Linked DNA regions of Homo sapiens: region 2 is linked to region 1. Evidence: fine-mapped expression QTL. A gene starts in region 1. The other region holds a variant in brackets. All regions are shown on one strand. Distances are from middle to middle.

Region 1 (5,000 bases):
GAGCACCTACTCTGTGCCGGGTGATGGAGAGTCTCTGTTGGACAGGCCAGACAAGGTCCCAGCCCCAGTAAAGCTGTGGATTCTGGAGAGGGACAGAGACAGTGATGATAAAGACATGGAAACAAAACAGTCTGCAACAAGTACTGTAAAGGAAAACAAACAGGATGCTGTAACAGAGAATTTGGGGGACTGCTTAGGGTTCCTGGGACATTTGAGGAGCTGGTAGGCTGAGATCTGAAGTTGGAGCTGACCATGGGAAGAGTAGAGAGGAGGAAAAAATGTTCCAGATAGAGACAACAGCAGCTACAAAGGTCTTGGGGGAAGAAGAAACTTGTAGAAACTGAGGAGTTGTGTGAGGAGGTTGGTGGGGGAGGGGGCGCTGGCAGCACAAGATGAGGGCCCAGAGTGGGCAGGGGCCATGGGGCCTGGTGAAGGGTTTGGATTTCATTCCAGGACAGTGGAGGGTTTTTAAGCAAGGGAGTGGTAATATCAGAATTTTTTTTTATTTTATTTATTTACTCAGACAAGATCTTGTTGTGTCGTCCACGCTGGAGTGCAGTGGTGCAATCACAGCTCACTGTAGCCGCCACCTCCTGGCTTCAAGCGATTCTCCCACCTAAGCCTCCCAAGTAGCTGGGACTACAGGCGCATACCACCACGTCCTGCTAATTAAAAATATATAATATATAAATATATATATATATATTTTCTTTTTGTAGAGATGGGGTCCGTGTTGCCCAGGCTGGCCTAGAATTAGACTCAAGTGATCTCCTGCCTCAGCCTCCCAAAGTGCTGGGATTACAGGTGTGAACCACTGAACCCAGCCAGATTTCTGTGGTTTGTTTGTTTGAGATGGAGTCTCACTCTGTCACCCAGGCTAGAGTACAGTGGCACAATCTCAGCTCACTGCAACCTCGACCTCCTGGGTTCAAGCGATTCTTCTGCCTCAGCCTCCTGAGTAGCTAGGATTACAGATGCATGCCACCAGGCCCAGCTGATTTTTTGTATTTTTAGTAGAGATGGGGTTTCATCATGTTGGCCAGGCTGGTCTTGAACTCCTGACCTCAAGTGATCTACCCAACTTGGCCTCCCAAAGTGTTGGGATTACAGGCGCGAGCGAGCCATGGTGCCTGGCCTCAGCCAGATTTCATTTTAAAGGCTCATCCTGGCTGCTGAGGGGGCTGTCAGAGGGCAGGAGTGGAAGCCAGGAGACCATCTGGAGCCATTGCCCTCACTGTCCCTGTGACGTCAGGCCCCTCACCCCTCTAAACCTGTTTATTCACACATATGTGTGACTGTGAGAATCAAATTTGGAATGAGCAGAAATGCACTTTGCAAAGCTGAAAAGTACGCATAAATGCAGGGATTCCCGCCTTGCTAGAAGCGGAGAGTCCTTTGGAAATCTGCTGGGTTAGACCTCTCTGGGGTTCTTGGTTGGGACAGTGCTGGGCCTGAGTCCCTAACTGAACACCTCATATCCGAGAGAGCCCCCTTTCCCTGCCTAGGGTTATAGGAGAGGGCTCAGGGGCTGGGGAGGGGGGCACCTGGCTGAGGCTCCGAGTCTTGAGGGGGAAGATGGGAAAGAAGGGTCCCCTTCCTGGCTTCTGACTCCCCCTGGAGCAATGGTTCTCTTGTGTTGCAGGGAGGGCGACACCTTTGAGCACGGGGGTGACCACCGGACCACCCTGCAGCCATCCAAATGCACACACACAGCTCCTTTCATCCCGTGTCAGGGAGTTCTCTGAAATTTTCTGAAACTCATTCACGAACTCTGGCTTAAAGGCCTCTGAGCTAGAAAGGGGAACTGAAAGGGGACACCTACCTTTTTACCCCACCTTTTTTGTCTGGTCTTTCTAGCATTAACCCCCTAGACACACCTAAGGGCTGATGCCGGGGGGAACCTGTCTTGATTGCTCTGGGCCACATCGAGGGCACCTTCCTGATACTTTTGTTATCTGCCACTGGGGACCCGGTTGTTGAAGGGGGACTTAAGATTTTCTCGAAGGAGGGGTCACTGTGAGGGCCTTTCCTGCCTGCTAGGGGCTTCAGTTTGGGGGCCCCCACTCCCGACCTCCGGGGAAGGGAGGGGTCCCCATCTCCCCCGGGCCTCTCGGGTCTTGGGGTCTCCCCGGGAGGCCGGAGGTTGGGAACCGGGCGCCGGCGAACCGATCAGGCCCCGCCCGCGAAGGTGGTGCAACGCCTGGCCCGGCCCATCCCATCCCGGCCACCCGGGCAGCGGGACCAGGCGTCTGGGGCACAGCATGCGGGGCGTGTGGCCGCCCCCGGTGTCCGCCCTGCTGTCGGCGCTGGGGGTGAGGCGGGCGCGGCCTGGAGGGCGGGGGCGGGAGGCGGGCGGGACCCCTCCCCGCGCGGGCCGCTCCGTGGGCCGGTCTCGGTCTCGGGTGTCCAGGCCGGGGCGGGGCGCGGCGGCGGCGGCGCCAGGGTCGGGGCCGCTTCCCCATTCGGGCGCGAGAGCCATGGAGGCGCTGAGGGAGTCCGTGCTGCATTTGGCCTTGCAGATGTCGACGTACAAGCGGGCCACGCTGGACGAGGAGGACCTGGTGGACTCGCTCTCCGAGGGCGACGCATACCCCAACGGCCTGCAGGTAGGCGCCCTCCGCTCCCTCCCGAGGTCCAGGCGCCCCGGGCCCGGGCATGCGCGCTGCCGCTGCCGCGCCCCCCGCCCCTACCTACCCCGCCTCTTCCCCTCCCTTCCCCTCCCTCGTCCCGGCATCCGGGAGGGGCCGCGCCTCCCCGCAGCTGGAGCTCCGCGCTGAGAAGCCTTCCGGAGCCCACCAGTCTCCCCTCACCTGCCCCCGCCATCCCTAGAGCCTCCCGGCCACCTGCTTCTGGGGCCACAGCCCAGGTGGCAGAGTTGAAAGCACCCCCGAGACCCGAACTGGTCCAGTTCCCTTTCCACAGAAGGCACAGTTTGTGCATGTCCCGGGACTTGCCCAGGCCCTTTACCGGCAGAGTCTACGGCTGTTTCTGTTTTAGCGTGGAAAGCCCTGCATCCCTGGAACCCACTCCCCCAGTCCGGGGCAAACTGGGAAAGTTGGTCACCTTATCCGGGAGGCAGTACCACCCTCTTCCTCTTGCCCTCCCAATACCTGAGTTTCCTGGGGCCAGAAACCTGTTCTCTGCCCCCTCTCCCTGCCCCTTTTCCAGCCTACTAAGGAAGTCCAATTCCTCCCCTCCCCAGGGTCTCCGCCCGTGGGCATCCCATCTGCCCACTCCTGGGGAGGGCCCCACCCCCGTCCCTGCCTTGTAACAGGACATTGAGCAAGGCTGCTTTCTGCCCTCCCGTCCCTGGGGGGCTGCACTGGGACAGTTGTGGCCAAGACCTCAGTGCTGGAGGGGTTTGGAGCCAGCCAGGTGCGTGGGAAGGTGCTGGAAACGCTGCGGACACCCTAGGAGACCCAGTGATCTGGCTCTTGAGAAGCCAGTGTAGAAAGAGGAGCTGGGGCACCCCAATTCTCGGAGGACTTCTGCCAGGTAGACCAAGGGAAGTATTTGGGAGAATCTTGGGGCCACTTGGTGAACTGGCACACAACTCTTCCCAAAGGCGAGCTTAGGATGAATGGACGCTTAGTTGCCAGGCCCACTCCACTCAGATACGCCTCTTAGAAGCGGGAATAATCCTCCCAGCGCAGGGAGACACCATTGATGGAGTTCCTCCTCCAGGGTCACATAGGCCCAGGGGACCCAAACTCACAGTCCCAAGGGCTCTACCCACTGGGATGTGTGGTACCCCTGCTTAACCTTCAGGAACACCCCTGAGACCTGTAGGGATTACTGTCCCCACTTACAGATGTGGAAACTGAGGCTCTGAGAGGGGCAACCACTGGCCTTCGGTCACCGAGCTAAAAATCCGAGAGCGACACGTCAAACCCTGTCTGTCTCAAACCTCTTCCCAGTGGACTCTTCTTAAGAGGCTGAAGCCAGCAGGAAATTAGATTTCTGGGGCAGGTGCTTTTCCCTTCTCAAATCAAAACAGAATCTAATCAGCAATGTTTTTCAGTCTCATCTTCCACAGAAGGGTCTAAATATATCAACACAAAAGCATTTCAGAATTCACAGCAAAGTAATAATGCCATGTTGCTGTTATCCTCACAGCAGCCTGTTTGGGGTATAACCTTTTTCAGATGAAATAGCACATTTCTCTGGGGAGGGCCCCCGGCCAAGCAGGAGGAGCCCCGTCTCTGAAGCCAGCGACCCGGGTTTGAGTTCTTACTCCACTCACGACCTTGGGCTAGTGGCTTAATCTCTTTCAGTGGTGATGGCCTCACTGTGAAATGGATGTTAGAGAAAGTGGATGTCATACATATTATATGCAGCCTGCTAGGATTATTGTTTTATGACCCATGAAGTAAGGGCTGGCGTGGCCACATTATTGATGATAAAGGTGAGGGACAAAGAGAGGTTAGAGACATTCCTGGGGTCACGTCGCTGTTGTCTATGGTTGGAGTTAGTGTCCTGTCCCCAAATGGATACATTTTCCACTTTCCTTGCAGGAAAAGGCAAAGAGGTTATGCAAGGATTTGGGGCATTTTTGTGGGTACCCAGCTTGGCTTGTGTGGTGTTGCCACAACTTCCCCAAAGTGAACATGAAGTAGCCAGTGCTTGCTTTTCTGAGTCAAGGACCCATTCATCTCCATTTATGAGGCAGAGTATTCTATTAATTGAATGTTTTCAATCATTGTTTTTTTTTTTTTCCCCAGTGTAAAAGCTTTATATGCTCACTTGGGGGAGAAAAAAAGATAGTCAAGTATAAAAAGGAATTAAAAACGGAGCAGTAATCCTGCCACTTGGAGATAACGGTTTCTAGTTTTTCACACTTGTATGTATGTATTTTTAAACATAGTTGAGCTCACTGTAAATACACAATGTTATATCCCGCATTTTTCATTCAGCATCTTCTACATTGTCAGAAACTTCCGAAACATGCTGCCATTAAAAATCATAACACCTCATGGTACCAACATATAAAAATATATTTA
Region 2 (5,510 bases), 35 kb before region 1:
ATATCTACCATTTACTGAGGACCCACTATGTGCCAGGCACAAGGTCTAGAATGGTTAGCAAGCAGGCATGGTCTTGGACAGTTGCACAGATCTCTAACTATAAGCAGGTTGCTATGGGAGTTTATGTCAGAGGAGCCATCCCTGGCAGAGAGCAGGAGCAGGGAAGACATCCCTGAGGAAGAAGGATTTGAGAAGAGATCTGAAAGATGTGTTAAGTGTTAACCAGGCAAATAAATGGAGAGAAAAAGAGTCTAGGCTGTGAGAACAGCATGTGCAAAGGTCCTGGGGTGAGTGACCTATAGCAGCAATCTCCAACCTTTTTGGTGCCAGGCTTCGTGGAAGACAATTTTTCCATGGACAGGGTGTGAAGAATGGTTTCCCTTATGAGAATCTAACTAAGCCCGATGATCTGAGGTACATGAAACTGTTCCACCTCAGTTCATGTTAGTTAGATTCATCACCTTAGTTAGATTCTCATAGATTCTCATAGGAATGCACAGCCTAGATCCCTCGCACGTGCAGTTCACAATAGGGTTCGCGCTCCTACGAGAATCTAATGCCACCGCTGATCTGACCGAAGGCAGAGCTCAGGCGGTAATGTCCACCCACAGCTCACCTCCTGCTGTGCGGCCCGGTTCCTAACAGGCCATGGACTGGTACTGGTCTGAGGCCCGGGGGGCTGGGGACCCCAGCTGTGTAGCTGGAGTAGAGAGGAAGGGTGAAGCTGAAGGGTGGTCAGGGCTGGGTCCCGCAGGGCCGTGCAGACCAGGTGAGGCTTTATTTTCCTCTATACCAAAAGACTCCATTTGTGCCCTCAAAGTAAGAAAAGGCAAAAATGTGTAACAAGCAGGGTGGAGGTCTCCCGGTTCTCGAAGGGGTGTCAGCAGGGAGCTAAGATGATCCAACTTGACTTGAGTGGGGAGGGCAAGAGTGGCATCAGAAAATGGTGGTGGCTTTGCCCAGGCCAGTGGTAGTGGTGAGGGAGAGGCAGACAGAGAAACTGAGTAGAGTGGGCAGGGCCTGGTGATTGATTGGAGTGGGGCAGGGGATCAGCCCGTCGCTTTGACAAATGAGAAAACAGAGCCCAGAAAGGTTGCATGAGCCACCGGAGTCACACAGTCCAAGCGTTAGAGCCAGACGCTAAGCTGGAGCCTCCCATCCCAGGGCCTTCCAGCCAAACATGGACTCCAGGCCCCAGATTCCTGGCAGCTGCTCTGGCAGAGTCCCTCTTCCCAGTCTCCTGGTGGCTTCGTCCCTCCCCATGCCCTGCTGCCTGCAGAGTCTGGCAGCTTCAAGGGAGTGGGGTGCTTTGAAGCATCTACAGGGAGGGCAGTGCTGTGACCTCCAAATTCTTTCCATGTGACCTATGCGACCCCAGCGAGACCAGGGCCCTCAGGACCCTGCCCTCCCCAGGCTTTGACGGAGTCCACAGAGGTGGGGTTTAGGGGCCAGAGCCACTGTGCAAACACAGCCCCTTGCTGGGGAGCGGGGGTGTTTCCAGGGACCCGAGCTGATGCCCTGTCATGAAGAGAAAGGAGACGCAGGGGCCAAAGGCTGGGGAGACCCTCTCTGTGCTCAGTGGGGTCTCCCCAGCAGCGGGGAGCTGCTTCCCCATCCAGGCTCCGTAACTGCAGGCTGCTGGCTGCTGTCTTAGGATTTCTGTTTTCTTCCCTGATGTCACCCCAGTTGGCACCTAAGACCTCTGAGATGCTGCTCAGTTAAATGGATTCTTAGCTCTGCAGGCCTCGCCCCACCTCCCTACGCTGCTCCAAACCATCCCCCTCCTGAAACCAGAAATATAACCCCCCTATTATGAACCTCATCTCCTCGAACCTGAGCCCCTATTTTCCTTAAGATTTGGATCTCTCTTTGGGGTTCAGGCCCCCCTTTTTTCTCACTAGGTTCTAGGACCTGCTTCCTGCTTAGGCACCTTCTTCTCCCTGGACCCCTTCTTCACCCTTAGACCCTGGACCTGGGTCTGATCCCTCTCTGGGGACTGGAGGCTCTGCTGTCTTAGAGACCAGCACCCCCGACACACACACCCCACGGTCTCCCAGGTTTCTCTAACCCCCAGGGGCTTCACCCTTCTCAGCTTGACACACAGTAGGCACTCAAGAGACAAGCTTGATCCTGCCACCCCTTCTCCCAGCCCTCCCCATTTGTGGCCCCTCCTGTACCTCCCCACCCTCCCCCGCATGGGTATTTTTGCTCAGGGAGCTCGTGCTGTGTGGCAGCTGAGTCTGGGAAGCAGCTATTGTTGGCTGAGAACGTGGGGCGGCAGAAGGATGGGGGCTGAGAGGAGGCAGGAAACATGCTCATAGGTCCAGGCCCAGCCCCCTGGTCCCCACACCCCACTGGGTCCAGGTGAGGCCATTTTAGGACAAGTCAAAGAAAGCCCCCTTCCCACAGCCGGGAGCTCCGTTGTGGAAATCACTGCGCTAGGGGAAGCTGGCAGCAAGTTTGGAAACAAGGTGGCTGGCGAAAGTGCCACCGGCAGCTTCGGAGAGCAGCCGGGGCACCCCTTGAGCCTCTGGGTGGCGTCGGGACAGTAGGCAGGACTCCCTGTGTGTTGATGCTCTGCTGCCGCCCCTTCTCGTTGCTTCTCGTACCTGTTTCATGTCTGCTCCGTGGAGCAGGAGGTGGGAACCACAATTTATTGAGCATTAACTTTGAGCTAAGCTGTGTGCTGAGCAATGAATGCATTGACTCAATTCATACCTCAGTCAGCTCCAAGGAAGTGGGTCCTATTGTGTCCCCATTTAATAGGTGAGGAGGCTGAGGCTTGGTGAGGTGAGGTGACTCGGCCAAGGCCACACAACTCCTGACTCTGTTTTTGCAGGCTTCTGTAGAGCATCTGACTTCAAGGCTGAGTGTGTTTTGCTTGTGGCTGAAAAAGACCAGGGACAGCGAGGAGGGAGGAGGCCAGCAAAAGAGGATGAGAAGCCTGCATGGGGAGCAGGGAGTGCCCTTTCTGGTGTGGGGACAGGCAGCTGGAAGCAAATTTCAATCTGGATGAGGAACTGGCACTGTTCTGTCCTCTGGCCCCTCTTGCCCCTTAATTGTGACGTTACTTCTCACCGCTGAAGGGGAACCGCTCGAGACGCTGGCTTGTCCTGGCACCTGCCTTGAGCAGAAGCTCAGAGAAAGATGCATGGAGGGAAAGAGTGGGGAGCAGAAACAAGCCATCAGGTACCAGGTTGGTGGTCCTGGAGCCAGTTTATGGTTCATCTAGTCACAAGGGCCCCGTCTCTGTGTTTAGTGTCAGCTAATGAAGAAATTGAATCCAGTACACAAAATTGGATTTTGCAGTTTTGCAACCAGTCTCAACCCCCCTCTATTGTGTAACGTGTTTCTTTAGAGAAGGAAACCCACAACAAAAC[ATG/G]TGTGCTTTCCTCCTGGCGACCTCTGATACCTCCATTGAAGACATGGCTTAACGAGAACTGTTTTTCTCCTTCTTTCGTGATTTGTGACTTTTCTTGCAGGCTCCAGGTGGCAGTGAGTCAGCCATAAAGCTCGTTCAGGAAAGTCCAGAGGAATTTTTCTTCTGCATCAGGTTCAACTTGAGCAGTGCTGGGTGACGCCCAGTGACACACTCGGTTGGGGAAGGAGAGGCTGGCACACTCCACTAGCTGCTTATCTCTGCCACCTCCGCCTCCATTTGTCCCTGGCTTCCTGGGGCCCAGAGCCATCTCTGCCAGAGCAGGGAGGCCGATTAAGTGACCCGCGGGCTCCTTCTGCCTGACTCAGCTCAGCTCCAGCCCTCTCTGGGGAGAATGAGTCATTTTTTCAACCCTGAAATGTTTCTCTTCATGTGGGAAAGGGGCGGGGGTGGGGAGAGCCCCTCCTGGTCCTCTCCAAACTTGTTCCTCAGCTCTGAGGGACACTTCAGCCACAGACAAAGGGATTCTAGGGCAGCTCTGGAGAGGGCAGTCAGACCTGAAGTCAGTAAACCACAGCTGTGGCAGCCGTTGGAGTCTCCCTGGACAGAAGCACACTGGGCTGAGTGGGTGGAGTGTCCCTGTCAGTCCCGCACTGATGGATGGTTTCTCCCTTGGGGATGGGCCTCTGCCCCCTGCTTCCTCTGCCCACCCAGTTAAGAAGCTATATGAGCCCGGGTGTGGTGGTGCACATCTGTAGTCCCAGCTACTTGGGAGGCTGAGGCAAGAGGATCGCTTGAGCCCAGGAGGTCAAGGCTGCATGAGCTATGGTCGAGGCTGCATGGGCTATGGTCAAGGCCGCACTCCAGCTTGGGCAACAGAGTGAGACCTTGTCTCTTTAAAAACAAAACAGGCCGGGTGAAGTGGCTCATGCCTGTAATCCCAGCACTTTGGGAGGCTGAGGCAGGTGGATCACTTGAGGTCAGGAGTTTGAGGTCAGCCAGACCAACATGGCAAAAACCCATCTCTACTAAAAATACAAAAAAATTAGCCGGGCATGGTGGTGCATACCTGTAATCCCAGCTACTCAAGGAGGCTGAGGCAGGAAAATAGCTTGAAACCCGGGTGGTGGAGGTTGCAGTGAGCCGAGATTGCACCATTGCACTCCAGCCTGGGCAATGGAGTGAAACTATGTCTCAAAAAAAAAAAAAAAAGAAAGAAAATTGCCCCCATCTCCCATTTTCTGTCTCCCTTCACTACCTCATTGCTCCCCTTAGCCCCTCCCACAGTCTAACATGCTGCATATTTGATTTGTCTTATTTATTCTGTCTCCTACTAGCATATAAGTTTCATGAAGGCAAGGCTTATTTTATTTTATTTTATTTTATTTTATTTTATTTTTAGTTTTTTGGGACGGGGTGCCACTCCGTTACCCAAGCTGGAGTGCAGTGGCACAATCACAGCTCTTTGCAGTCTCGAACTCCCAGGCTCAGGTGATCCTCCCATCTCAGCCTTCCAAAGTGCTGGGGTTACAGGCATGAACACTGCACTTGGCCCAAAGGCAAGGATTTTGTCTGTTTTGTTTCCTGCTATATCTGTCGAGAACAGTGCTAACACGTAGTAGGCACACGATTTTAAAGAGGGTAAGAGGAAAATGAATGAGTGAATGGATGTGAGCCCCTGGCAGAGTATCCGGCCTGCAGTCAGGGCTATTGTGTATTTTGATCCATAACCCTCCCCCCGCCGGTTCCAGCTGTGTTGTTCTGGGAGGCTAGGGCCTTTCTCCACCTACGCCCTCAAGGTCAGCTTATCCACTCTTGAGGTTTCATGCTTAATTTTTATATTTGAGCTTCTCATACCAGTGTGTGAGATTGCCCTGGGGATCAGAGTAGGGTACTTGCATCATAAAATAAAAAGGTACTATTTTGGAGCAGAATGCAGAATTGGCATGAATTTTTGAGATTCAAAAGGAAATGAGACTTAAGCTTTTTTCACAGCTTTTAGCTGTGTCCTCAGTCCTGCCAGGGCACAGGTTGACTCTCCTCTGCCATGTGGGTGCTTTGGGAAAGTGTAAGCAGCCTTGTTTTTGGAAATGACCCCAACCCCTGAGCCCTGGGACCTGCCCTCCCTCCA

The links.
Region 2: its variant is fine-mapped to the expression of ECE1 in whole blood (TOPMed, PIP above 0.99).

The regions. Positions count from the first base shown.
Region 1 is chr1:21,287,676-21,292,675 of GRCh38, reverse strand. ECE1 (endothelin converting enzyme 1) reads left to right here and starts at 2,213. Exons shown (of 19, transcript NM_001397.3): 1 at 2,213-2,312; 2 at 2,520-2,606. The coding sequence starts at 2,262. RefSeq lists silencers at 2,132-2,311, 2,362-2,531 and an enhancer at 3,208-3,769.
Region 2 is chr1:21,322,901-21,328,410 of GRCh38, reverse strand. It overlaps a transcript of ECE1 not described here. Among named protein-coding and RNA genes, the nearest start is that of ECE1-AS1, 32 kb to the right of the region's middle. RefSeq lists enhancers at 213-771, 4,134-4,694. The variant ATG/G (reference allele first, on the strand shown) is at 3,381.